Homo sapiens: one gene and its partners. The protein of the gene in region 1 purifies or fractionates together with the protein of each later gene. This does not show direct contact. Each region holds a gene or a part of one and is shown in the gene's direction. Other genes may lie near its edges.

Region 1 (3,500 bases):
GAGCTAGAGACCTTAATATTCTCTTCTGCAAAGTGGGCGTCATAATTCCTATTTTGCAGGGTTGTCATGAAAGTTAGTGTATCTGGAATGTACTAAATGTACTAGCTACTAAGAGTTGTAGTTATTGAAAAATAAAGTAAAACAGACCCAAGTTTCACAAAAGACTGTCCTTAAGGTCCTTCAAAGAAAAAAAAAGCACATTATAAAAGTCATTTAAGTATTTTGATACCTAGACACCTGTGAATACAATCCTACATATCTACCTTATACATATTATTTATTATTTCAAGGCCAACAGGGCCAGCTCAAAACTTGTATCATTATTTTTTGCTCGCCGTGAATCTGCCTTGAAGCTCTGAATTTAAAAGACTCAAGCAATTAGTGGAAAATCAGTCATTGTGACAACTTTTCAAGTGGGTGGGGAGTGTCTTCAAATAGCCAATGATACGGAAACTTTCTTCACGCTCTTTTTTATATATTTTTTTAAGTCTGCATATCTAAATTGAGATCACTTGAAATGAGTCTTGCCACACTGGGCATTTAGCCTAAAAATAAACACCCAACGGAATTTGCAGCCTGGCTGGGTTCACAAGATGCACAAGGGACCAGATTCTCCCTGCTCAAATTGGCATCGCAAATTGGCAGGGTCATTTGCATAAATACGAATATTTTATTCCAAAAAATTCTGCCCAAGTTGGGGGAGGTTGGAGCCCAGGACTGTTTGGTTTGTCCCAAAGTGGAAAGAATGTTGCTCTTGGACTTCAGGGGTTCAAGCAGAAGATCTGCTCCCAAATTAGGGTATGAGAGCTATGATTGCACCACTGCGTTCCAGCCTGGGTGACAGAACAAGACCCTGTCTCTTAAAAAAAAGAAAAAGAAGAGAGGTGGAGAGACAGGAGGATAGAAGAGGGAAGAAAGAGTTGCTGATGGAAAGGTGCAGGGCAAGATAAGCTTCCTGGGAGTGGAGGACCAGGGAATGGAATAGTTTAAGACCATCCTATGAGTGGTCGTAAACTATCCCAGATGTTTCAGGTTAGCTCAGCTCTGAAGAAAGACTTCCTTACATTTTGTAATCTGTTACACATTCTAGGTGTGGTGTCACACAGCTGCATTCATTTGTTTTCCCCCAGATCAGTTTCTTGGTGGCTCAATTTTTTGCCCTGTCAGTCAAAAACAAATTAAGTGTCTACTGGGTACTCATGTGCTAAAGAAAAAGGAACAGTAACAAAAAGCTTCCCATTTTTCCCCAATTTCATGCAAAGAATCTGCACTGTCACTTTCAGAGCCATTTAGGATCCTGCTTTTCTGTTGCTGGTGGAAGCCCTGAAAATTAAATGAATTTTTAGTATTGCTAGTGTCTGGCTAAATTCAAGGTTTTAAAACCCACCCTAACTATGCTGCAATTCTAGACTGAAATAATGAACAGATGTCATTTGAACTAACAATATCGAGAAGACTTTTCACTAACAACACAGTTGTCTGTCTAGAGATGGAGATTTAATTTTTTTTGTCTGATCACATGTGGAGTCCCATTTAATTTTCCCCTATCAGTCAAAAACAATTAAGTGAAGAGAAAGAAGCTATTCGTGATATTGTCCTTCGCAAAGAAAACTCTTTCCTGACCCACCAACATGGCAACGATTCAGAGGCAGAAGGTGAAGTTGTGTGTCGACTGCCTGATCTTGAGAAGGATGACTTTGCTGCAAGGAGAGCAAGGATGAACCAAACCAAGCCAATGGTGCCATTAAATCAACTCCTCTATGGCCCTTATCCAAAGAAAGGGGCAGAGAAATCAGATGGCAGCAAACAGCTCTCAAAGGGAATCTCAAAAAAAAGAAGTCTAGAATATAAAAGGTGTGCATGGTGTGTGTGTGTGTGTGTGTGTGTGTGTGTGTGTCTATGAAAGAGACACAGGGAGAGAGGACATAATTAAGTGAAGTCAGTTTGTATTGTACCCCCTCCAGTTCCTCTTTCCAGCCTCTCAATTATATGTACTTTGTAATGGGGGTTTATTTTGAAGCGGAACTTTAGATATTCAATCTCCCTTAAATGCAGATGGCAGACAGTAGAGTGTCCATGTCCAAAATAGGGCTGAATTTGCCAAAGAAACATTGAATTCCAGTGTGTAGATGTGCTGAATCAGGGCTCATCACCACATATGGGTGCTGGTGTCATCAGTTGGCATTATTAGCAAAAATAGACATGTACTATTGCCTATCAGAGAACAGCCACCTCTCACAGCTGCTCTAGTCCATTCAAAGGAAGCAGAAAAACGCTAAAAGCACTTCTCTCTTATTAGCTACATTTAGATGTTGGAAGAAAAAAAAATGAGACTTGTTCTTTCTTCTGTCACACCAGCAACATCACCTAGACAAATGATAATGGATATTTCCCATCAAAAACACTTCTCAAACTTATACTTCTATATGTTCTGTCATAGAAATTGTTTTCAAGCCAGTTTCCTTTTGCCAACATTTTCCCCGTCCTCTTAATACATGTTGGAGTGAATTGGGGACAGGAAAATTATAGTAAGATGGAATTTGACCAGTGATTTTTGTCCTGAGAGGGAGATATGATTTCATTTAGGGAACCTACTTGCTGAATTTCATCCTGCAGAGTTAATCATTCTTGTATTTTTCCTTATATCAAAATCAGCTAGAGTTAGCATCTACATTATTGAATTGTCATCTTTTTGCCCATCACTTTAGAGGTTTTTAAGCCTGTTGAACTTAGTATATAATTATCTCAGCTGTGCTTTAGACAATTAAAATGGTTCTTTAGGCAGAGTTGTTGAGCTCAGGGGAGTAGTTGGTCTTTTTGATTTTTCTTAGGAAGTACCAGATACAAAAACCCATGAGGGATTCCTGGATATAGAACAGGGATTCGATAAGAGAAAATCTGGCATCATTTCTTTACAGGACACATTATAGCTTCAGGAGGCCCTTGGTCTTTGCCATTGCTGTTGGCAGGCCTTGTAACAAACCATTCTTGGAGGGCCTTGTGGGAGGGATCAGTTGTGCAAGTGAAACAAAGACTTTTGGATAACTGACTAACATCAAGGCATATTGATGGCAATCAGCAATTTGAGTCAGGAAAAGGACTAGCCTTTGTATCTCCCTTGTTTCCTTTCTCCTCCATGTAATTTTAATTCCTGATATTTCCAGCTATATTTGTCTGTTGTCACCTGACTCTGTGTTTGCGGACGCAGTTCTGGGTCTGAAGCAGCCCTTGACCTCTCTAGACAGCATCAAAGAACTTATTAAAAAAAAAAAAAAAAAGAAGGGTCCCTAGTGCCTCTTTGCCATGCCCTTCCTTGATCTCCTTCCTCAAACTAAGAAAATTCTATAGCCTTTCTATTTTTATGGGCTGTGCAAGCATGCCAAATCATCAAGGTAACAAAAGACTACCTCTTGATTTTCCAGCTTGAATGATATATTTTGTGGGAAGATTAATAGGCTCTATTTATATATTTTTTGAGATTTTTCTATTTCAAGAAGCAT
Region 2 (3,500 bases), on another chromosome or scaffold:
TAAAAACTGCAATTACTTTTGCACCAACTGAATATCTTTAGGCCGGGCGTGGTGGTTCACACCCAGTAATCCCAGCACTTTGAATGGCCAAAGCAGGAGGATTGCTTGGGCTCAGGAATTTGAGACTAGCCTGGGCAACATGGTAAAACCCTATCTTTACAAAAAATACAAAACTTAGCCGGGTGTGATGGTGCATGGCCATAGTCCCAGCTATTAGGGAGGCTGAGGTGGGAGGATCACTTGAGCTTGGGAAGCGGAGGTTGCCGTGAACTGAGCTCACGCCACTGCACTCCAGCCTGGGCGACAGAATGAGACTCTGTCTCAAAAAAAAAAAAAAAAAGCATCTTTAGAGATCCTAAAATGTAAAATTTTGTTCTTCTGTAGTTTTTCCCTTGACTTGTCATTTAAAAAAAAATAAAATTGCTATTTATGGGCATGGTGGCGAGTGCCTGTAATCCCAGCTACTTGGGAGGCTGAGCCAGGAGGAACGCTTGAACCCAGGAGGTGAAGGTTGCGGTGAGCCAAGATTGCACCATTGCACTCCAGCCTAGGCAACAAGAGTAAAACTCTGTCTCAAAAAAAAAATTTTTTTTTCTATTTAATGTAATTCTACATAAAGAAAAATTAAGTTTAAATTATTAGCATAAATTTTATAGTTATTTCTATATTGTAGAATATAATGTTTTAAATGTGAATATCAGTGCATTTACCTCATATGCTAGGAGTTGCCACCACCATGCCCCACTCCAAGACACCATAGAGCACAAGCACCTGTATCCATGCCCCCCTGGGCAGCAGGGAGGAGCAGGGAGCCCAGGCAGGGCTTAGGGCTCCAGGAGGCTGGGAGTGGGCAGTTAAGAACCTGGTCCTCCGAGGCAGGGAGTGGGGACCAGGCATGAGTCCTTCAGAAGGTTACCTCTGGAGATAATGCCAAGTATCAAGGGTGTGTGTTTTGTATTCAGCAACCCATTTTTTAGTCTGAAATCAAAGGGAGTTGGAGAGTGAAGGATGAACCAAATGTGACAGATGTTCAGTTGGGGATTTTGTAGACACCAGGCCTAGAAGGCCCTTAGGAAAGCCAGTGAATACTGGACAGCCCAGGAGGCTGCCCTTAATTATGACCTCACCCAACCGACAGTCTTCTGGGCCACCCCTAGGAAGGAGTCTGTCCTGTCTTCTATATTTTCCTCCCTAGATAAATGTTGAACTTCATGGCAGTGAAATTTATCTTGTAGAATGTCAAACCTATTGATTCACTTATATATCATCTTCCTTTTTTTTTTTTTTTGAGACTGAGTCTTGCTGTGTCACCCAGGCTGGAGTGCAGTGGCGGCATCTCGGCTCACTGCACCTCTGCTTCCCGGGTTCAAGCGATTCTTCCACCTCAGCCTCCTGAGTAGCTGGGACTACAGGCATGCGCCACCATGCCTGGCTATTTTTTTGTATTTTTAGTACAGATGGGGTTTCACCATGTTAGCCAAGCTGGCCTTGAACTCCTAACCTCAGGCAATCCGCCTGCCTTGGCCTCCCAGAGTGCTAGGATTACAGGTGTGAGCCACCGTGCCTGGACGTTTTTTTTTTTTTTTTAGATGGAGTTTCATTCTTGTTGCCCAGGCTGGAGTGCAGTGGTGTGATCTCGGCTCACTGCAACCTCCGCTTCCCTTGTAGCTGGTGTTACAGGCGCCCACCACCATGCCCGGGTAATTTAGTAGAGACGGGGTTTCACATGTTGGTCAGGCTGGTCTTGAACTCCTGACCTCAGGCTGTCCACCCGCCTTGGCTTCCTAAAGTGCTGGGATTACAGGCATGAGCCACCATGCCCAGCCTTATTTGTCATCCTTCTTATTGAGATGTTGCTGGGAACAGCAGTCCCAGAAACTTTATTTCAAACCTGGGGGTAATAGTCCCACAAAGAATTTCTGGGAAACTAGCAGCTTACATATATACTAAAATAGAAATTCTGAACCCCCTCATTGAAGGTTAAGAAAGGTTTTCCCAGCTTGGCAAGTTTTGGCAGAATCCCATGCTTTATATTTCACTTCCTGGTTGCATTTTCAAGGGTAAAAACTGGTTCATGGATTTAAACGTTAGGTTCTGTGGGAAAGGAAAAACAGTGAGTGTTGTTTAGAAAGCGAAAGGAAGGATTAGGAGCCATGATTTATACCACATCTCCAAAAAGAAACTTCTTTAAGGAAACGTCTTTAAGAAAAATGGTTGCAAGTTGCTTTTTAAGGCTCTTTACCCATGAGAGGAGTGTGTTTTAGAGATAGGACAGATGCTGGGTTGGGAAGAGGTGTTTTCATGTGATGAGGGTGGGTGTAGGTTTCTTGTGCCTTGATGGCACCCTCTCCATTCTCTCTCTCTCTCTTTCTTTTTTTGTTTTGAGACAGAGTTTTGCTCTGTCACCTAGGCTAGACTGCAGTGGCATGATCTCAGCTCACTGCAACCTCTGCCTCCTGGGTTCAAGCAATTCTCTTGCCTCAGCCTCCTGGGTAGCTGGGATTACAGACACCCACCACCACGCCTGGCTAATTTTTGTATCTTTAGTAGAGACGGGGTTTCACCATGTTGGCCAGGCTGGTCTCAAACTCCTGACCTCAAGTAATCTGCCCACCTTGGCCTCCTGGAAGTGCTGGGATTACAGGCGTGGGCCACCGGGCCCAGCCTCCATTCTCTTTTGATGTCTATGGGAGTAAATTTGGTGCTTCCTAAATTGAGAACTTTGGAAAAAAATTAAGACAGCACTTTAAACAGAAACGTGTGCAGGGGCAGGGAGATGCCAGTTTACCCCCCCCGTTAAGTCTGAGGTGACAGAGGGCTGTAGGAAGACTGCTTGTTGGCTTTTCAGCCTCAATATGTGGAATATTTGGCAATTCAGTGAGGTACCTGCTCTTGTTTTCTATCTTCAGAGGACAGCACAGGTTTGAATCTCTTTGCTCAGTGTAAGACAGCATCATCTCAGCAAACTGGCAGGTATCTTAAGTAAATATTGGCAGAGGGAAAAACACGGAGGAATATGGTTGTATTTGCCTGTTGTTTTTAAATGGCTGTCAAAACATTTGCTTTTCAATTTTCTGAAATGAGAAATATTTTGAGTTAATGTTTTATCATTTACAGAGTATTTCACGAACATTCTCTGGTTTGTCCCATAATTATTGCATTTTTTTAGTGCGGGAATTTGGGCTCAGAGGGGTAAAGTGACTTCTCTAAAGTTGTATACTGGGCTGGGCATGGTGACTCATGCTTGTAATCCCAGCACTTTGGGAGGCCGAGGTGGGCAGATCACCTGAGGTCAGAAGTTTAAGACAAGCTTGGCCAATGTGGTGAAACCTCATCTCTACTAAAAATACAAAAATTAGCTGGGTATGGTGGTGCGTGCCTGTAATCCCAGCTACTCGGGAGGCTGAGGTAGGAGAATCACTTGAACCCAGGAGGCAGAGGTTACAGTGAACTGAGATTGCGCCATTGCACTCCAGCCTGGGCGACAAGAGTGAAACAGT
Region 3 (3,500 bases), on another chromosome or scaffold:
GGGACGTGGAAGGATTCTGTTCCTCCATCCACGACACCAGTGTCTCTGCTGGGTTCAGAGCACTGTATGAGGAGGGATTGCTTCTTGATGTCACTCTGGTTATTGAAGATCATCAGTTCCAGGCCCATAAAGCACTCTTGGCCACCCAGAGTGATTACTTCAGAATTATGTTTACTGCAGACATGAGGGAACGAGATCAGGACAAAATTCATTTAAAAGGTCTAACAGCTACCGGTTTCAGCCATGTCCTGCAATTTATGTACTATGGAACTATAGAGCTGAGTATGAATACCGTTCATGAGATTCTTCAGGCTGCCATGTATGTTCAACTTATAGAAGTGGTGAAGTTCTGCTGCTCTTTTCTCTTAGCGAAGATCTGCCTAGAAAATTGTGCAGAAATTATGAGACTCTTAGATGATTTCGGCGTAAACATCGAGGGAGTCAGGGAGAAGTTAGACACCTTTCTGCTAGACAACTTTGTGCCACTCATGTCTAGGCCTGACTTTCTGTCCTATCTGAGCTTTGAGAAGCTCATGTCTTACTTGGATAATGATCATCTGAGCAGGTTCCCAGAGATAGAGCTGTACGAGGCTGTGCAGTCTTGGCTGCGGCATGATAGAAGACGCTGGAGACATACCGATACCATCATTCAGAATATCCGGTTTTGCTTGATGACCCCAACCAGCGTTTTTGAGAAGGTTAGTGCATTTGAAAGCAATAGACAGTACTCATCATTTAGTTAAGGCAGTGTATGTCTTTATAGATAAGATTCACAGACTTAAGAGCCAAGAATGAATAACTTCATTTTGTTATTTCTTATGTTATTCAAGAATGAATAACATAAGAGTACTTTATGTATAAGAAGCCTGATTTGTTGTGCATTTAGGTTTTGTAAAATACATTTTGTGGGTGAAAGATAAACCACGTAGGTAGTAAAACAGTTTTATTTTAAAAGTACTTTTAAAGTTGAAGCATAATTACTTTATGCAAAATATTACATGTTTGCTGTAGCTTTTCTTTTCATTTCATCAATTAAATCGGAACCGAGTCAGGCTAGATCTCTTTTTAAAAATAAATTTAAGTAATACATGCAGAAATTGGCATTGAGAAGAGTTCTGCATGGTATACATTAATAGAGTTTCTTATTCCTCTAAAATATAGCAAGGACGTACAAAATAGCTCTTGAAAACCAATAGGCCCTAATGGTGATTTTCTTCCCTGCTCTTACCTTCTGGTTTTCCCCGTTTTACTGTGAATACTAACTAAATTTGACAATGAAAACATGTTATATGTCTAAAAACATCATTTTGGCATTTCTAAACAAGTAGACTATAACTCTTCTATCTACATTGATCAACCATCCCTGGGCACATTTTACCATGCAAATAGTTCTCTTAAAAATAGTCTTTCTCTGAAACAGCCTTGGCCTTTTTTTGCATGTAAGCATTTTCATTTTTATATCAGAGTTTCACTTGTGATCCTTTCTTGCCCAAAGGTCATAGAGCACTTTTAGTAATTGCTTAACTTAATTGGTTTCTAATCACATGGTTACCTCTGGGGCTCTGTTTACTTCTTGCATCTTCTCTTTTTTCTAGAAAGCACACTGAAAACTTGGTCGGTCACTTTTCATGTTAAATAGTTCCTCAGCTTTAGTTATTAGACCTGGTTATAAAAATACAGTATCTGCAAAGGAGGGTTGTCTACGCCATTTGAAAAATAAACCCATTTGCGCCTTTGAATAACAGCAGCCTGACATATTTTTTTTTCCTCCAAAATGCTGTGAAACTGAGAATTCAGTTTTGTGGATTTTTGTCTTTTATTCTCAATGTATTGATGTGGCAGAAATAATTGAAACTAAATTATATATATGTATGTATGTATTTTTTTTTTTTTTTTTGAGACAGAGTCTCGCTCTGTCGCCCAGGCTAGAGTACAGTGGCGTGATCTTGGCTCGCTGCAAACTCTGCCTCCCAGGTTCAAGCGATTCTCTTGCCTCAGCCTCCCGAGTAGCTGGGATTACAGGCGTCAGCCACTGTGCCTGGCTAATTTTTGTGTTTTAGTAGAGACAGGGTTTCATCATCTTGGCCAGGCTGGTCTCGAACTCCTGACCTCATGATCCACCCGCCTTGGCCTCCCAAAGTGCTGGGATTACAGGCGTGAGCCACCCCACCCAGCCAATAATGTATTTCTTTTATTTTTTGTTTAGTGATAATCAGCCCCACATCAATTATGTAAATCATTTGTCTCTGATGTTTTGATTTTTTTCCTATTGTTTTTATTGCTCTTTTTCCCTGGGGAATCCTGTTTTGTTTTGTTTTTGTTTGTTTTGTTTTGTTTTGAGAGGAGTCTCACTCTGGCCCTGGAGTGCAGTGCTGCGATCTCAGCTCACTGCAGCCTCCACCTCCTGGGTTCCAGCAATTCTCATGCCTCAGCCTCCCGAGTAGCTGGGATTACAGTTACCCACCACCATGCCTGGCTAATTTTTTGTGTGTGGAGATTCTTAATTCTTCCTTTGGTAGTAACAGATTTGAACAGTGACTTAATAGTGTAGGGAAGGGGGCATTCTGCCTCAACCCAAGGAAAAGCCCCCATTCGTTCTAGGGACACAAGTCATGTCCTCTAGCTGTGCTGAAATCTTTGGGTTTATCCTTCTGCAGTATCTATGTAGTCCTCTACTGGATTTTCTCCTTAGGTGAAGATAAGATTGTCTTAACTTTTTTTTTTTTTTTAGTATACTTTTTTCTTTTTTAATATTTAACTTTTTTTTGTAGAGATAGGGTCTCACTGTTGTCCAGGCTGGTCTTGAGCTGGCCTGAAGTGATCCTCGTGCCTCGGCCTCCCAGAGTGCTGGGATTATAGATGTGAGCCACCGTGCCTGGCCAGATTGTCTTAATTTTTGTACTAAGTATTCTGTGGGACCATCATCGAAGAGGCCAAGGCTTCCAAATTTCCTGAGTTCCTTAGAGGCAGCAATACTGTTTATCTGAACACTGCATGTGCACACGAGCACACACACACACACACACACACACACACACATATATTTATGCTAGGTCATGTACTAAGTGCTCTTACCGTACATATAGGTAGCATCTACATGGTTTTTTTTTGTTTTTTTTTTTTTGGTTTTTTTTGAGACGGAGTCTCACTCTGTTGCCCAGGCTGGAGTGCGGTGGCACGATCTAGGCTCACTGCAAGCTCTGCCTCTCAGGTTCACGCCATTCTCCTGCCTCAGCCTCCTGAGTAGCTGGGACTACAGGCACCCGCCACCACGCCCGGCTAATTTTTTTGCATTTTTTTTTTTTAGTAGAGACGGGGTTTCACTGTGTTAGCCAGGATGGTCTTGATCTCCTGACCTCGTGATCCGCCTGCCTCGGCCTCCCAAAATGCTGGGATTACAGGGGTGAGCCACCGCGCCTGGCCATGCATCTACATGTTATCCCCATTTTATAGATAAGGAAACAGGCACAGAAAGGTTAAGGATCTTATTCCAGACCAAG
Region 4 (4,110 bases), on another chromosome or scaffold:
TACAGTTTTTCTCTGTAGTTAACAAGCCTCCCCACCATTTTCCCTGAAATAGCCAAACTCTCAGCCTCATCTAGGCCACAGGATGTGTGAGACACAAGCCTCCTTACACAAGCCAAAGATTGTAAAGGCATCCTTGACTCCCACACAATCGGTAATAGGGCCTATTGCTTCCATTGGCCAAATGTATCTTGACACAAACCAGTCTTGTCCTTTCTGCAGATCTCCATAGCCACTTGGACTACTGTGGCCGCTCCCGATTTCCTGTTCTTTCCTCTCTCCACTTCCTTCTGCATCCAGCTGTCAATACTGTCATCTGAAAATGCAGATCACATGGCTCTGCCCTGCTTCCATGACTACTTAGAATACAGCTCATCTCCAGTATGGTCTGCGGGGTCTCAGTTCATACCACTCTCTGTGGTGTACTTTGCTCCAGCCTCACTGGAAGAAAATGTTTGCTTGCTATAAACACTTGAGAGGTGCTCTGTGTTTCTCCCTTTGGGTAAAGCTTTCTAGGCTGGTCCTAATCTGGGAGCCTCTAAAACTCTGAGATGTGGAGCGAGACAGGAACTGGGCAGGGGCCACCCTTTTCTCTTTGACCATCCCCAACTGCTTTTTTTCTTGCTTTACTTTACTCACTTGTCTTCCACCTCAGCCTGCAGTGAGTGGCTTTTGTCATCAGGCATTAATAACGCAAAGTGCCTCAGAGCAGAAGAGTTAACTATTTGTTTACTTAGCTAAAAACATCTGGACTTTTCTCCATAGCCAGGCTCCTGCTTGCTGAGCCGGCTTGTTCTCACCTCGAGGGGCATGGGCCTCCACCCTGCCGTTTGGGGTGAGGGGATCCTTGGCCAGGGTGGTTTCCCCGCCGTCATAGGAGGGAAGTCAGTGGGAGGCTCAGAAGGCCTTGGCTATACAACCAGTGCCATGCGGCGCAGTCAGGGTCCCATGGACGACTTCCATCAGCTCACCCGCCTCCATCCCCAAGCAGAGTGTAGGCAAGGGCTGTGACTGCCTCAGGTAATTGGGTGATTTTGCTCCAGCAAGAGGAGAGGAAGCATGTGAGTGCCACACTGAACCTTTCAGAAACAGCCGTGGGGTCGGGGGTGCTTGGGCCAGGCCAGGATACTTGGTGTTAAGCCTGCTCTCTCTTCAGTGCCCCGACTCGGCTTGCAAGCAGGACCTGCTGGCCTACCTGCAACGCATCGCCCTCTACTGCCACCAGCTGAACATCTGCAGCAAGGTCAAGGCCGAGGTGCAGAATCTCGGCGGGGAGCTTGTTGTCTCTGGGGTAAGCATTAGCTGAACAAAAAGAGGGCCAGTGGGAACGTGCTGACCCTTGTCAGAAATGAAAGTCACCTCCTATCCGCATAAACACCTGCCCTGGGAAAGTGTGCTGTGCAGAAACTCCAAGTCCTGTCCCAGTCTCTGGAGACCAAGGTCTGTCCATCATCTGTTCCCTGTAGAACTGTGACACCTGCGGGGCACTGCAAGGGCTGAAAGGCTGGCCTCCTCCCCTTTGCTGGCCACTCACTGGGTAGGAATTTTTAAAAATCTTCCTTGGGACCGGGCGTGGTGGCAGGTACCTGTAAGTCCCAGCTACTTGGGAGGCTGAGACACAATAATTACTTGAGCCTGGGAGATGGAGGTTGCAGTGAGCCGAGATGGCACCACTGCACTCCCGTCTGGGCAACAGAACAAGACTGTCTCAAAACAAAACGAAACAACAAAACAAAACAAAACTTCCTTTTCTTCCCCCAGAGAGGAATTAAGAGTAGACATAGATAGGGTGTTTTCTCAAAAGCCCTTCACTCCTCAGAGTGCTTGGGTAGCGTCTCTTTCTTTTTACCACATCACAGTTCTGAGGCCTTTCTCACCTAGGGCAGGGGAAAGAAGAGGTTTGCTGAGTGGATTGGGGTCCACCGAGCCTCCATGGCTTCTCTTAATCCCACTGAATTTCCTTTAAAAGAAACACTTCTTATATTGAACATATTGAGACCATTTGCTCATCTGCTTTGCCATAAACATCCCTGTCTCGATTCCTGCTTCTCCTCCCCCACGTGCTTACAGCTCTGGGATCACTTACAGTGACTTCCAGTTGGTTTGAGTGAATAAACACTTGCTGAGGGGTGGGGGTGAGCAAGGCGAGGTTGCCTCATGTCTTCTCCAAAGGGTCTGAGGGCAGGCGCTTCCAGGCTATTTAGATAAGAGCAGCCGTTGAGGGTGTTCTTCAGGAACAGGCTGCTGCCCAATCCTCTGCGACCTGCCCAGGCCCTGGTCTTGCAGAGGAGTAGGGGGCTCCCCTTCAAGCACAGCCCACCTGTGTCCACGAGGCTGGAGGTCAGGCCGGTGCTTCTTACCACCCCTGTCTGCCTCGTAGGTGGACAGCGCCATGTCCCTGATCCAGGCAGCCAAGAACTTGATGAATGCTGTGGTGCAGACAGTGAAGGCATCCTACGTCGCCTCTACCAAATACCAAAAGTCACAGGGTATGGCTTCCCTCAACCTTCCTGCTGTGTCATGGAAGATGAAGGCACCAGAGAAAAAGCCATTGGTGAAGAGAGAGAAACAGGATGAGACACAGACCAAGATTAAACGGGCATCTCAGAAGAAGCACGTGAACCCGGTGCAGGCCCTCAGCGAGTTCAAAGCTATGGACAGCATCTAAGTCTGCCCAGGCCGGCCGCCCCCACCCCTCGGGGCTCCTGAATATCAGTCACTGTTCGTCACTCAAATGAATTTGCTAAATACAACACTGATACTAGATTCCACAGGGAAATGGGCAGACTGAACCAGTCCAGGTGGTGAATTTTCCAAGAACATAGTTTAAGTTGATTAAAAATGCTTTTAGAATGCAGGAGCCTACTTCTAGCTGTATTTTTTGTATGCTTAAATAAAAATAAAAATTCATAACCAAAGAGAATCCCACATTAGCTTGTTAGTAATGCTCTGACCAAGCCGAGATGCCCATTCTCTTAGTGATGGCGGCGTTAGGGTTTGAGAGAAGGGAATTTGGCTCAACTTCAGTTGAGAGGGTGCAGTCCAGACAGCTTGACTGCTTTTAAATGACCAAAGATGACCTGTGGTAAGCAACCTGGGCATCTTAGGAAGCAGTCCCTGGAGAAGGCATGTTCCCAGAAAGGTCTCTGGAGGGACAAACTCACTCAGTAAAACATAATGTATCATGAAGAAAACTGATTCTCTATGACATGAAATGAAAATTTTAATGCATTGTTATAATTACTAATGTACGCTGCTGCAGGACATTAATAAAGTTGCTTTTTTAGGCTACAGTGTCTCGATGCCATAATCAGAACACACTTTTTTTCCTCTTTCTCCCAGCTTCAAATGCAAATTCATCATTGGGCTCACTTCTAATAACTGCAGTGTTTCCCGCCTTGGGCTTGCAGCAGAAAAACCTGACAACATAGTGTTTGCTAAGGCAGTAATTTAGACTTTACCTTATTTGTGATTACTGTAGTGATTGATTGATTGATTACTATTAACTACAAGGTATAATTTACTATCACCTTATTTAAATTTTATGAATTAATTTGAATGTTTTTTACACTAACTAACTTTTCCCAATAAAGTCCACTATGAAACCACGACATCCAAGAGCCCAAAGTCGTCTTCTCTGCCTTCAAGTCATAGATTTGCCCGCAGTATCTGTGGTGCTCTGGGCCCTCCCGGTGTCCGTCTCTTCCAGGATGGGGATGCCCGGGAGGGAAACTGTCTGTGGCTCTAGGCTGCACGGCTCGTGCCAACCCATCAGGGAGGGCCATGCCCGTTGTCCTATTGAGTGCCCCACCCTGCACCCCCACCTTGGGAATTCACATGTCCATTCCTTGAGGTTCATGTCAACCTCGGAGGCATCCCTGTCTTCATTATAGCTGACCCCTCTCCTGCGTCCTTCTGTCAGCATATCCCTTCTGCATCCTTCCCGTCACACATACATACCAAGCTATGATGATTGATTGATAGTGGCCTTCGAGATGAAAACCATCCTTAACCCCATGATCCTTCCCAGCTGGCATCCCCACCCTAAGCAAGGTTCCCTAAAGAGAAGCTTGTTGACATTTTCTCCCCTTCCTCACTTACAGTCAGCTGTCA
Region 5 (3,500 bases), on another chromosome or scaffold:
TTTTATCCACTGTTCAGGAATTGAACCAAAGTTAAACATCCTTGAAATTGTTAAACCTGCGGACACTGTTGAGGTTGTTATTGATCCAGATGCCCACCATGCTGAATCAGAAGCACATCTTGTTGAAGAAGCTCAAGTGATAACTCTTGATGGCACAAAACACATCACAACCATTTCAGATGAAACTTCAGAACAAGTGACAAGATGGGCTGCTGCACTGGAAGGCTATAGGAAAGAACAAGAACGCCTTGGGATACCCTATGGTAATAAAATGCATAATTCTATATTGGGTAGAATAATAGGAATTAAGCTTGACATAGAAGACACTAGGGTAAGTTATAATCTATTTTACATGTAGAGTTATTAGGATGAATGTTGATTTTCTGTATCTCTCTTTTAATTGTAACGCACATTTAAGCTCATGTGGTGGACAAATTCTGTCCTGCGTGCAGGAAATACAAAGAAGTCTAAAAAATTTCTGCTCTTAGGGTGTTGAGAGTGTAGTTGAAGAGAGAGAAGATAGATGAAAAGAGATGATTGCCATAAAAGGTAACATGTTTTTAAACTGCCAGTAACTCTTGTAGAAGTATGCTATTGGAATCTCAAAGAGATCATAGTTGCCCTGAGGGAAAGCTGAAAAGAGTTTATTATAAATAAGATACCATTGGGCAGAGAAAGACATTTAAGACAGGAAATGTTATGTGCAAAGCTTAGACCTGGGGGTATGCATGAGTAGTGAGAAAATGGAGTGGTTAAGGAGTTACTCTGTAGCATTACAGAACTGTTTTTGATTGATGAAAATGATAATTGAAAAATGAATATGGTGGCAATATATGGCATAAGTTGGAACAGGTAGAGACTAAGTGAAGGGAAAACAGGAGCATATTATTATAGTTGTGACTGGATGATAATGTCTACATTAGCCCAGACTCCAGATGATTTCTTTGGGAGTAGCAAGGAAAAAGTGGATGAAAACAGTGATAGGACTGAGCAGATTGACAGATTTTATGAGGGTAGAGAGGGAAGATACAAGTATTGATCTAACTTCTCAAGCTTCATCTTGGTGACTAAAACAGTAATAATCTTGATAAAAATTGGTTCCATCATCATTACATATTTAGTGAACACTACCGTACACCAGGCACCATGTTAAATGCTGGGCTTAATTAAGATGGTGCACTATGAAGAGCATGCTTTCAAAAGCCCAGTTGGGGAAGTAGAGAAGTCTGGTATAGGAAATGTTTTTTTCAAGAGAAGGTGGATAGCACTTGATTTTGATGTGGAAGTTTATATTCAGCTGGAGGTTAGCCAGAAAATGGTTTCAGTTATATAAGATTTGGGCTGGAGACAAAGATGTTATATGAGACTCATTCCCACTGAATTTATATTTGAAGCTATAAAAGTCTACGTAGTCCCTGATGGAAAGCGAGAAATGGAAAAGAACACACAACTAAAGGCATATACACTTGACCCTGTAAACATTTAGGGTTGGAGAAAAGGGAGACAAGAAATAACTGAAGAGACAGAAAGAAAGTAATAACTTATATGTATAGTGTCACTGAAATTGAGGGGAGAGTTTGGATGGTCAAGACTCTCAGATGCTGCTGAGAAAGTCAAAGAATGCTGACTGATATCTATTAAATTTGATGATCAGAGGATTATTCTTAAATTTAGACAGAAGTAACTAGAGTTGGCGAGACAAAACAGAATTATAAGAAATAGATATCTTAGAAATGGGGGCAGATGAGGAAGAATGCTGGGGTAACAAATAAATAATACTGATCTTCCAAGAGTTGGCGGGGACCTGAGTGTATTTGTAAATGAAACAGTATTGTCGGGTTTTTGTCCTTTTTTTATTTTTTATTTTTAGAGACAAGGTTGTACCTGGGGAGCAGGGCTGATGACAGAAAGGCTGTATTGTAGAACCACTGTTTTCCCTAGGACATTTTTTTTCTTTCTTTAAACCAAACCTAAAAGATACACAGTAAATGAGAGAGCTTACCCATGGAACTGAAAGAGAGCTATGGAACCAGACAGCTAATGTAGAATTTCAGTCTGTCCCTCCGCTGCCCAGTACTGTAGCCACTAATCACACGTCAGCACTTGAAGTGTCTCTGGTCAAAATTAAGATGGGTTGTAAATGTAAAAATACCCATTAAAAGAAAAAGTATAAAATCTTTTCTAATTTTTTATATTAATTACCAGTTGAAATAACATTTGGAACATTAAGTTAAAATAAATTCATTATTAAGATGTATTTGACCAACTTTTTAAATGTAACTATTAGAAAATTTAAAATTACATAATGGTCTGCATTGTATTTCTGTTGGACAGCCCTGATCTTGATAATTGTAGCCTTCAGTTCTGGATGTTCTTACTGCATTATTTTGATAAATACCTGTGTTCTTTTTGCTGGAACTCCTGTTGAATCTCTTGAGTTGATCTGCTGCATCTTTTTTCTTGTTTATTTTTCATCTTACCTATCTGCACTACTTTCTGCCAGATTTTCTTGTGTTTTTAATATAACCTATCTGATTTTTAATTTACAAGGGCTCTTCATTTTTGTTTGTTCCTTTCTGTAGCATTCTGATCTTATATTGCCAATATCGTGTTTTCTCCTACTTCTCTGAGTATATTGATTATATATTTTTTTTTAACTTTTAAAAAGCTTTACCGTGGTATATCTGTTTCTTGTGGATTCTGTTTTTCTTGTGGTTTTTGTTTGTGTTGTTTTTAACCTTTCCCAAGTATCTAATTATTTTTGCCCATCTTTTCATATTTAAGAATTAATCACTTTAGGCCAGGCACAGTGGCTCATGCCTGTAATCCCAGCACTTTGGGAGGCTGAGGCAGGTGGGTCACTTGAGGCCAGGAGTTTGAGACCAGCCTGGCTAACATGGTAAAACCTGTTTCTACTAAAAACACAAAAATTAGCTGGGCGTGGTGGTACATGCCTGTAATCCCAGCTACTTGGGAGGCTGAGGCACAAGAATCTCTTGAACCTGGGAGGCGGACGTTGCAGTGAGCCGAAATTGCACCAGTGCACTCCAGCCTGGGCAACAAAGTGAGACTCCATCTCGAAAGAAAAAAAATAAGAGTAAATAACTTTAAAGCTAATTAATGCGAAGTTCTGAAGGATTTGATAACTATATGCTGATAAAACGAGGCATTGACTATTTCATTAAAAGAATTTCAGGCCAGGTGTGTTGGCTCATGCCTATAATCCCAGCACGTTGGGAGGCTGAGGTGAGAGGGTTTCTTGAGGCCAGGAGTTTGAGACCAGCCTGGGCTATATAGCCAGACTGTCTCCAAAAAATAGAAAAAAGAGCTGGGCATGGTGGCATACACCAATATCCTAGGAGGCTAAGCTGGGAAAATTGCTTGAGCTCTGGAGCTTGAGGCTATAGAGAGCTTTGATGGCACCACTATACTCCAGCCTGGGTGGCAAAGCAAGACTGTCTAAAAAAAAAAAAAAAAAAAAAGGGCAAAGAAAAGAGTTT
Region 6 (2,689 bases), on another chromosome or scaffold:
GGGCTGAGTGATGGGATGGCCTCCCTGTCCCCCTTGCACAGATTTCCCCGGAGGCTCCAGGCAGCTGGGCTGCTCTCATTCCCTATACCTGCGCTAGGCAGGATAGGGCAGGGTTGCCACTGGCCTCGCCTGTGCCCACAACAGACAGCACGGCATACACAGCCTGTCAACCCCAGCTCACCCCTAGACAGGGTGCCCAACCCAGGGCTAGCCTGGGGCTTTAGGCAGCCAGGACCATACAGCCCTGGAATGACGCCCACCTGTAGCTTGGGGTCCTCCCAAGCCCTGTGTGGGTCTCCAGGGTGAGGTGGGGGTTGTTTCCTGGGAGGCTGTGGGTCCCGAGCAGTCCCAACTGATGCCTTGCCCATCCCTTCTTGTCCTGCCAGGCACCGGCAGTGGCTCTGTGTCCCACGCCATCATCCGCACCATTGCACCCACGGGTCACCTGCACACGGTGGAGTTCCACCAGCAGCGGGCAGAGAAGGCCCGGGAGGAGTTCCAGGAGCACCGTGTGGGCCGCTGGGTGACTGTGCGCACCCAGGACGTGTGCCGCAGTGGCTTTGGCGTGAGCCACGTGGCCGACGCCGTCTTCCTGGACATCCCATCACCCTGGGAGGCCGTGGGCCACGCCTGGGACGCCCTCAAGGTCGAAGGTGCATCCGGGGTTCCGGGAGAGGTACAGCCTGGGTGGGGGTGGGGCAAGGGTGCAGGACTGAGCTCCTGGGATCTCAGAGGGGTCCAGAGACCAAGCCACACCATGGCAGTGGCCAGGCCAGGGCCCCACTTTGGCCTGAGGTGAGGAGTGGGTCAGGCTGGCCAGGGGAGGCAGAGCTGGGGAGGATGGTCCCTGGCTGGGCCCTGCTCCTGGTCTCTGGCCTCTCCCAACCCCCTGATGGAGGAAGGTGGCAGCGCCACCCAAGTGCAGGGCAGGCCCGGCCGGAGGAGTCTGGAGTCCCCTCCCTGCTGTTTCCCAAAACCTCTCCTCCCCCAGGCTCTGGAGCCCAGGGAGCTGGCCCCTTTTAGGGAAGATGCTGGGTGCGGAGGCGGGGCAGCCCTGGGGAAGGTCGGGCCTCAAGCCAGGGAGGTGGCTGGGAGGCCCAGGGTTTTTCCCTTTTCTGGAGAAGGAGCAGCTCAGGCAGCAGGGGCCCCTTCCTTCTTCCCAGCTGAGAGTTGTATTCTGAGAGGGTTGAAGGGTGGAGGTGCTGGGCGCCCCACCCCACCTCAAAGATGAGCCGAGGCCTGGTGCGAACAGCAAGGCTGTGGCCGGGGGTCCCCTGCTGGCTCCAGCCCAGCCCTGACTCCTGGGTCCTGGTCTCTGCTGAGGTGGGTAGCTGTGGGGATCTCCACACCCTGCCTCCTAGGCTTCCTGCTCTGGGGACACTTCTGGGCCTGGACCATAGTCCCAGGGAGGCTGAACCCGGCAGAGCCTCCCCTGGGGCCCCCCTGCTGCCTTTGTGACTCCTTCCTCCAGCGTGGCTCGGGGAACCCGCGCCTGCCTCTGGGACCTGTCCCTTTCCCTGCGAGCTCCCCCTTCTGGGTCCAAAGGCTCCTGGCTCATTCATGGGCCCGGCATCTCCTGCCGGCCACGGGAGCCCGCTGGGGAGGATGCGGCATGCTCAGCCTCTGTGCCCTGTCTAGGCTGTTGTCACACAGCAGGTGCCTCCTCTAACCCCGAACCTCCTGGCGGCCCCGTGTTAGGGTACAGCTGAGGAGACCAAACCTCAGGGACGTTTGAGGACACTTGCCTGGGCCACATACCTCTACCCGGCCCTGGCTTCCCCAGGTCCTCCCTGCCAGGACAGGGACCCGGGCTGGGTTCTCATTCACTGCAGGCCAGGCCAAGTGAAGCCCGTGGCTGCCCTGGTGGGAGGCGGCAGGGAGGGGCTGTCATGCTCGGGCTCTGCTTCGAGTAGGCGCCTCCTGTTCCCGGGAGCAGCGACAGCCTCTAATTTCCTGTGACAGCAGCGGCCCCCGCACCGCCCCACGCTGCCGTGCTGTCAGAGCTGCTCCGGGCCCAGAGCTCCAGCAGCCCTGTGGAAGGCAGGAGAGCAGTGCCCGCTGTGGGCCAAGTGAGACAATGGCAGCGCGGGCTTGACCCGGTGCCTGGCACATGGGAGGGCCTGGCATGGCTAAGCTGGGTGACATGAACAGCGGCGCCAGGCCCCATGGGGGGCTGTCAGTTGAGGGCCAGGCCCCTCTGCCCTGCAGTCCCAGCTCTTGGAGAGCTTGCAGTCTGTGTTGGGGCTGTCTTAGGCTGGCCTCAGACCCTAGGGTGGGAGTCCAGGGATGCTAGGGCCAGACGGGCCAGGCTCTGCCACCCCTGCCCTCTGACCCTCGGGTCCTGTTTCCCACAGGCGGGCGCTTCTGCTCCTTCTCACCGTGCATCGAGCAGGTGCAACGCACATGCCAGGCGCTGGCAGCGCGCGGCTTCTCAGAGCTGAGCACCCTGGAGGTGCTGCCACAGGTCTACAACGTGCGCACTGTCAGCCTGCCACCGCCCGACCTGGGCACAGGCACAGATGGCCCTGCCGGCTCCGACACCAGCCCCTTCCGCAGCGGCACGCCCATGAAGGAGGCCGTGGGCCACACCGGCTACCTGACCTTCGCCACCAAGACCCCAGGCTAGGGGGCCGCCTCCCAGGGCACCAGGGAGCTGGGAGCACTGAAGGGCTGGGCAGGGAGGCCAGAG
Region 7 (3,500 bases), on another chromosome or scaffold:
ATATTTTACAGATAAGGATACTTTAAAAATAATAGCAGCCAGACATTTGGAAGGAGCAGAGAAGGCAATATGGTGTTATAAGGAAAGGACTGGAAGGTAGAGCACTAACACTATCTAGATTTTAGTTTCATTTCTGACAGTGAAGAGCTGTTTAGCCTTGGTCGATTCAGTAAACTCCCTAGGCGTTAGTTTTGCAATTTGAAACAAAAGGTAGTTGGGCCTCATGGTTTCTAATAGTTTCTCAGCTTTATATATAAATGTGTGCTCTGCCGCAGTTGAAGTTGTTACAATATAGTCATGCTCTGCCTAAGGAAGTTTCAATGATGGTGATCCTGTAAGATTATAGTAGAGCTGCCCTATATAGGTGTACCATTTTTTATTTTTTTATACTGTGTAATTACTGTATCTCTTCTACATTTAGTTATGTTTAAATACACAAATACTGTTACAGTTGCCTGCAGTATTCTGTACAGTTGTGTGCTGTACAGGTTTGTAGCCTGAGAGAAATAGGCCATACTATATGGCCCAAGGTTGTAGTCAGCTATACCACGTAGGTTTGTGTAAGTACACTCTAGAGTGTTCACATAATGTCAGAATTGCCTAATGAGGCATTTCTCAGAATATATGTTAAGTGATGCATGACCGTATTGATAAAATTTTAAGGAAATGTTTGAGTCTAAAATTTGGAATCACATTAGATATAAGTAAAGATTATAAAAAACTGACCCATGGACTTGACACGGAACTTTCTCAAGCAAATTGCAGTTCTACTAATTAAGCAAACATTTATACTACTATGCTAGGTTTTTGGTTTGTGTTTTTTTTTTTTGAGTCAGAGTCTCACTCTGTCGCCCAGGCTGGAGTGCAGTGGCTTGATCTCAGCTCACTACAACCTCAGCCTCCTGGGTTCAAGTGATTCTCCTGCCTCAGCCTCCCAAGTAGCTGGGATTACAGGCGTGTGCCACCACACCCGGCTAATTTTTGTGTTTTTAGTAGAGAATGGGATTTCTCCATGTTGGTCAGGCTGGTCTCCAACTCCCTATCTCAGGTGATCCGCCCGCCTTGGCCTCCCAAAGTGCCAGGCTTACAGGTGTGAGCCACCTCAGCTGGCCTTTTTTTTTTTTTTTTTTTTTGAGACTCAGTCTCACTCTATTGCCCAGGCTGGAGTGCAGTGGTGCAATCTCGGCTCACTGCAACCTCTGCCTCCCGGGTTCAAGCAATTCTCCCTGCCTCAGCCTCCTCAGTAGCTGGGATTACAGGTGTGTGCCACCACACCCAGCTAATTTTCTTATTTTTAGTAGAGATGGGGGTTTCACCATGTTGGCCAGGCTGGTCTCGAACTCCTGACCTCAGGTGATCTGCCTGCCTTGGCCTCCCAAAGTATTGGGATTACAGGCGTGAGCCACTGTGCCTAGCCCAGATTTTTTCGTAATAAAATTAGAAAAATGACTTAATTATTCTGTTGAAGTGGATAGTTATGATGTCAGTTAACAAGTAATCGTGGCTATTTGAATAAAAACTTTGCAACATTATATGAGAAAAATAGCCACTATCATCAAAATTTACATTTAATTTTTTTAATTGACAAAGGTATGGACAACTTGTTCTGGATATTTGTCTTTATACACATACAGTTAATATTTAGAACAAGACAAGCATGGCATTGGAAAATGGTTAGCCTTTTAAGGTTTGTAAAATAGATTTTCTAAAACAAAGAAACTAAAATTACAGTGTTCTGAAAGTTTGTAAGTTGATGTTTTGAAAATTAGAATCTGTTTTTCCAGGAAGTCTTTTCTGTAACATAAGCCTTTTGGCCTGATTTCTAGGCAGCCCGTTGGAGTCTTATAAAAGCCTCACAAATAGGTAAAATAATACTTTGGTGGTAAAATATTTTCTGACTGATTATCAGTTTTTGCCTGGTTTTTGTTAACTGCTGAGCTCTTTGAACAAATAAAATATTTGGCCTACAAGTGCTCTGATTATGAGGTGGGTGAACCTGTAGCCTTGCCAGTCACCCTCCTTTCCCACCTTACCAGCTCCTCACTATTTAAAAATCACTGTTTTGAGTTCCCTGTTAGGAGACTCAGATTCTCCCAATAAGGCATTGCTATTAAGCTTAATTTAAGTACAGAAACTTCCCTAGGTTTCCCCACCTGCTTGCTAGTGGCAGTGAAACCTGCCTCATACTCTAACCCTATAGGACAGTATGAGGTATAGAAAAGCTTCAAAAGATTGGGGGTAATAAACAAAAATAGTAGAAAAGGGTTTGGGAAAATGAGGAGTGTTACAATATGGAGTTTGTAACTTCTTTACCTTCTCTGTGCTTTTTTTATTTCCCACCCATTCACCTCACTTTGGCATTGGGTAGGGAAAGAAGAAAGCCTGTCCTATGATAGGTGCTATGCCATACTTTTATATGCATTATCACATTTGACTTGAATCTTTGAAATGTGTTTCCAAAATACACAGAAAAATTAGGAATGAGATGGGTATTTATTTTTTGTTTTTGAGACGGAGTCTCACTCTGACACCCAGGCTGGAATGAAGTGGCAAAACCTTGGCTCACTGCAACTTCTGCCTCCCAGGTTCAAGTGATCCTCCCACCTTGGTCTCTGAGTAGCTGCTGGGACCACAGTTGTGAGCCACCATGCCCAGCTAATTTTTTTTTTAATTTTTAAAATTCAAAATTTCTCACCATGTTGCTCAGACTGATCTTAAACCCCCTAGGCTCAAGGGATCCTCCCGCCTCGGCCTCCCAAAGTGCTGGGAAAACAGGTGTGAGCCACCATGCCCAGCCTGTTTTTTATTTTTATTTTTTTTTAGAATAGAGACAGGGTTTCACCTTGTTGCCCAGGCTGTCTCGAACTCCTGGGCTCAAGCGATCCACTTGCCTCAACCTCCCGAAGTGCTAGGATTATAGGTGTGAGCCACTGTGCTGGGCCCCTTGAGGTAGGTATTTATTACAGATAAAGAAACTGAGAATCAGAAAGTATATATAATTTGCTAAGGTCACACAACCGGCAGAACTGGGATTTAAACCTAGGGCTGACTACAAGCCTGTTCCATATGCCATAACTTTCTTAGGAATGAGGAGCAATGATGGAAAGGGAGATTTCTTGTCTTTTTTCTTCTTCATTAAATAGTACATTTGAATTGCTGGCAGAGAATGTTCAATTAATACTTTTTTTTTTTTTTTTTGAGATGGAGTTTCACTCTTGTTGCCCAGGCTGGGGTGCAATAGTGTGGTCTCCGCTCACTGCAACCTCTGCCTCCCAGGTTCAAGCGATTCTTCTGCCTCAGCCTCCTGAGTAGCTGGGATTACAAGCGTGCACCACCTTGCCTGGCTAATTTTTTGTATTTTTAGTCAGGCTGGTCTGGAACTCCCGACCTCAGGTGATCCACCTGCCTTGGCCTCCCAGAGTGCTGGGATTACAGGCATGAGCCACCACGCCTGGCAATACTTTCTAATTATTTTATTTTCTTTCTTTTTTAAGAGAGAT

The links.
Region 2: the proteins of LIMCH1 (region 1) and PLEKHA7 purify together in Homo sapiens (co-immunoprecipitation; one large-scale study listed by IntAct). This does not show direct contact.
Region 3: the proteins of LIMCH1 (region 1) and KLHL15 purify together in Homo sapiens (affinity purification with mass spectrometry; 3 studies listed by BioGRID and IntAct, with this or other methods). This does not show direct contact.
Region 4: the proteins of LIMCH1 (region 1) and CTNNA1 purify together in Homo sapiens (co-immunoprecipitation; one large-scale study listed by IntAct). This does not show direct contact.
Region 5: the proteins of LIMCH1 (region 1) and GABPA fractionate together in Homo sapiens (co-fractionation; one large-scale study listed by BioGRID). This does not show direct contact.
Region 6: the proteins of LIMCH1 (region 1) and TRMT61A fractionate together in Homo sapiens (co-fractionation; one large-scale study listed by BioGRID). This does not show direct contact.
Region 7: the proteins of LIMCH1 (region 1) and YES1 purify together in Homo sapiens (affinity purification with mass spectrometry, with the first as the bait; one large-scale study listed by BioGRID). This does not show direct contact.

Annotation. Positions count from the first base shown.
Region 1 is NC_000004.12:41,625,157-41,628,656, forward strand, and holds part of LIMCH1 (LIM and calponin homology domains-containing protein 1), read left to right. Parts: intron 1-1,551; coding exon 1,552-1,854; intron 1,855-3,500.
Region 2 is NC_000011.10:17,004,415-17,007,914, reverse strand, and holds part of PLEKHA7 (pleckstrin homology domain-containing family A member 7), read left to right. Parts: intron 1-3,500. UniProt on the Homo sapiens protein: Required for zonula adherens biogenesis and maintenance. Acts via its interaction with CAMSAP3, which anchors microtubules at their minus-ends to zonula adherens, leading to the recruitment of KIFC3 kinesin to the junctional site.
Region 3 is NC_000023.11:24,003,187-24,006,686, reverse strand, and holds part of KLHL15 (kelch-like protein 15), read left to right. Parts: coding exon 1-698; intron 699-3,500. UniProt on the Homo sapiens protein: Substrate-specific adapter for CUL3 E3 ubiquitin-protein ligase complex.
Region 4 is NC_000005.10:138,931,425-138,935,534, forward strand, and holds the end of CTNNA1 (catenin alpha-1), read left to right. Parts: intron 1-1,153; coding exon 1,154-1,288; intron 1,289-1,463; coding exon of another isoform or gene 1,464-1,534; intron 1,535-2,377; coding exon 2,378-2,665; 3' UTR 2,666-3,610; downstream 3,611-4,110. UniProt on the Homo sapiens protein: Associates with the cytoplasmic domain of a variety of cadherins. The association of catenins to cadherins produces a complex which is linked to the actin filament network, and which seems to be of primary importance for cadherins cell-adhesion properties.
Region 5 is NC_000021.9:25,751,972-25,755,471, forward strand, and holds part of GABPA (GA-binding protein alpha chain), read left to right. Parts: intron 1-17; coding exon 18-263; intron 264-3,500.
Region 6 is NC_000014.9:103,532,196-103,534,884, forward strand, and holds part of TRMT61A (tRNA (adenine(58)-N(1))-methyltransferase catalytic subunit TRMT61A), read left to right. Parts: intron 1-386; coding exon 387-653; intron 654-2,354; coding exon 2,355-2,626; 3' UTR 2,627-2,689. UniProt on the Homo sapiens protein: Catalytic subunit of tRNA (adenine-N(1)-)-methyltransferase, which catalyzes the formation of N(1)-methyladenine at position 58 (m1A58) in initiator methionyl-tRNA.
Region 7 is NC_000018.10:802,243-805,742, reverse strand, and holds part of YES1 (tyrosine-protein kinase Yes), read left to right. Parts: intron 1-3,500. UniProt on the Homo sapiens protein: Non-receptor protein tyrosine kinase that is involved in the regulation of cell growth and survival, apoptosis, cell-cell adhesion, cytoskeleton remodeling, and differentiation.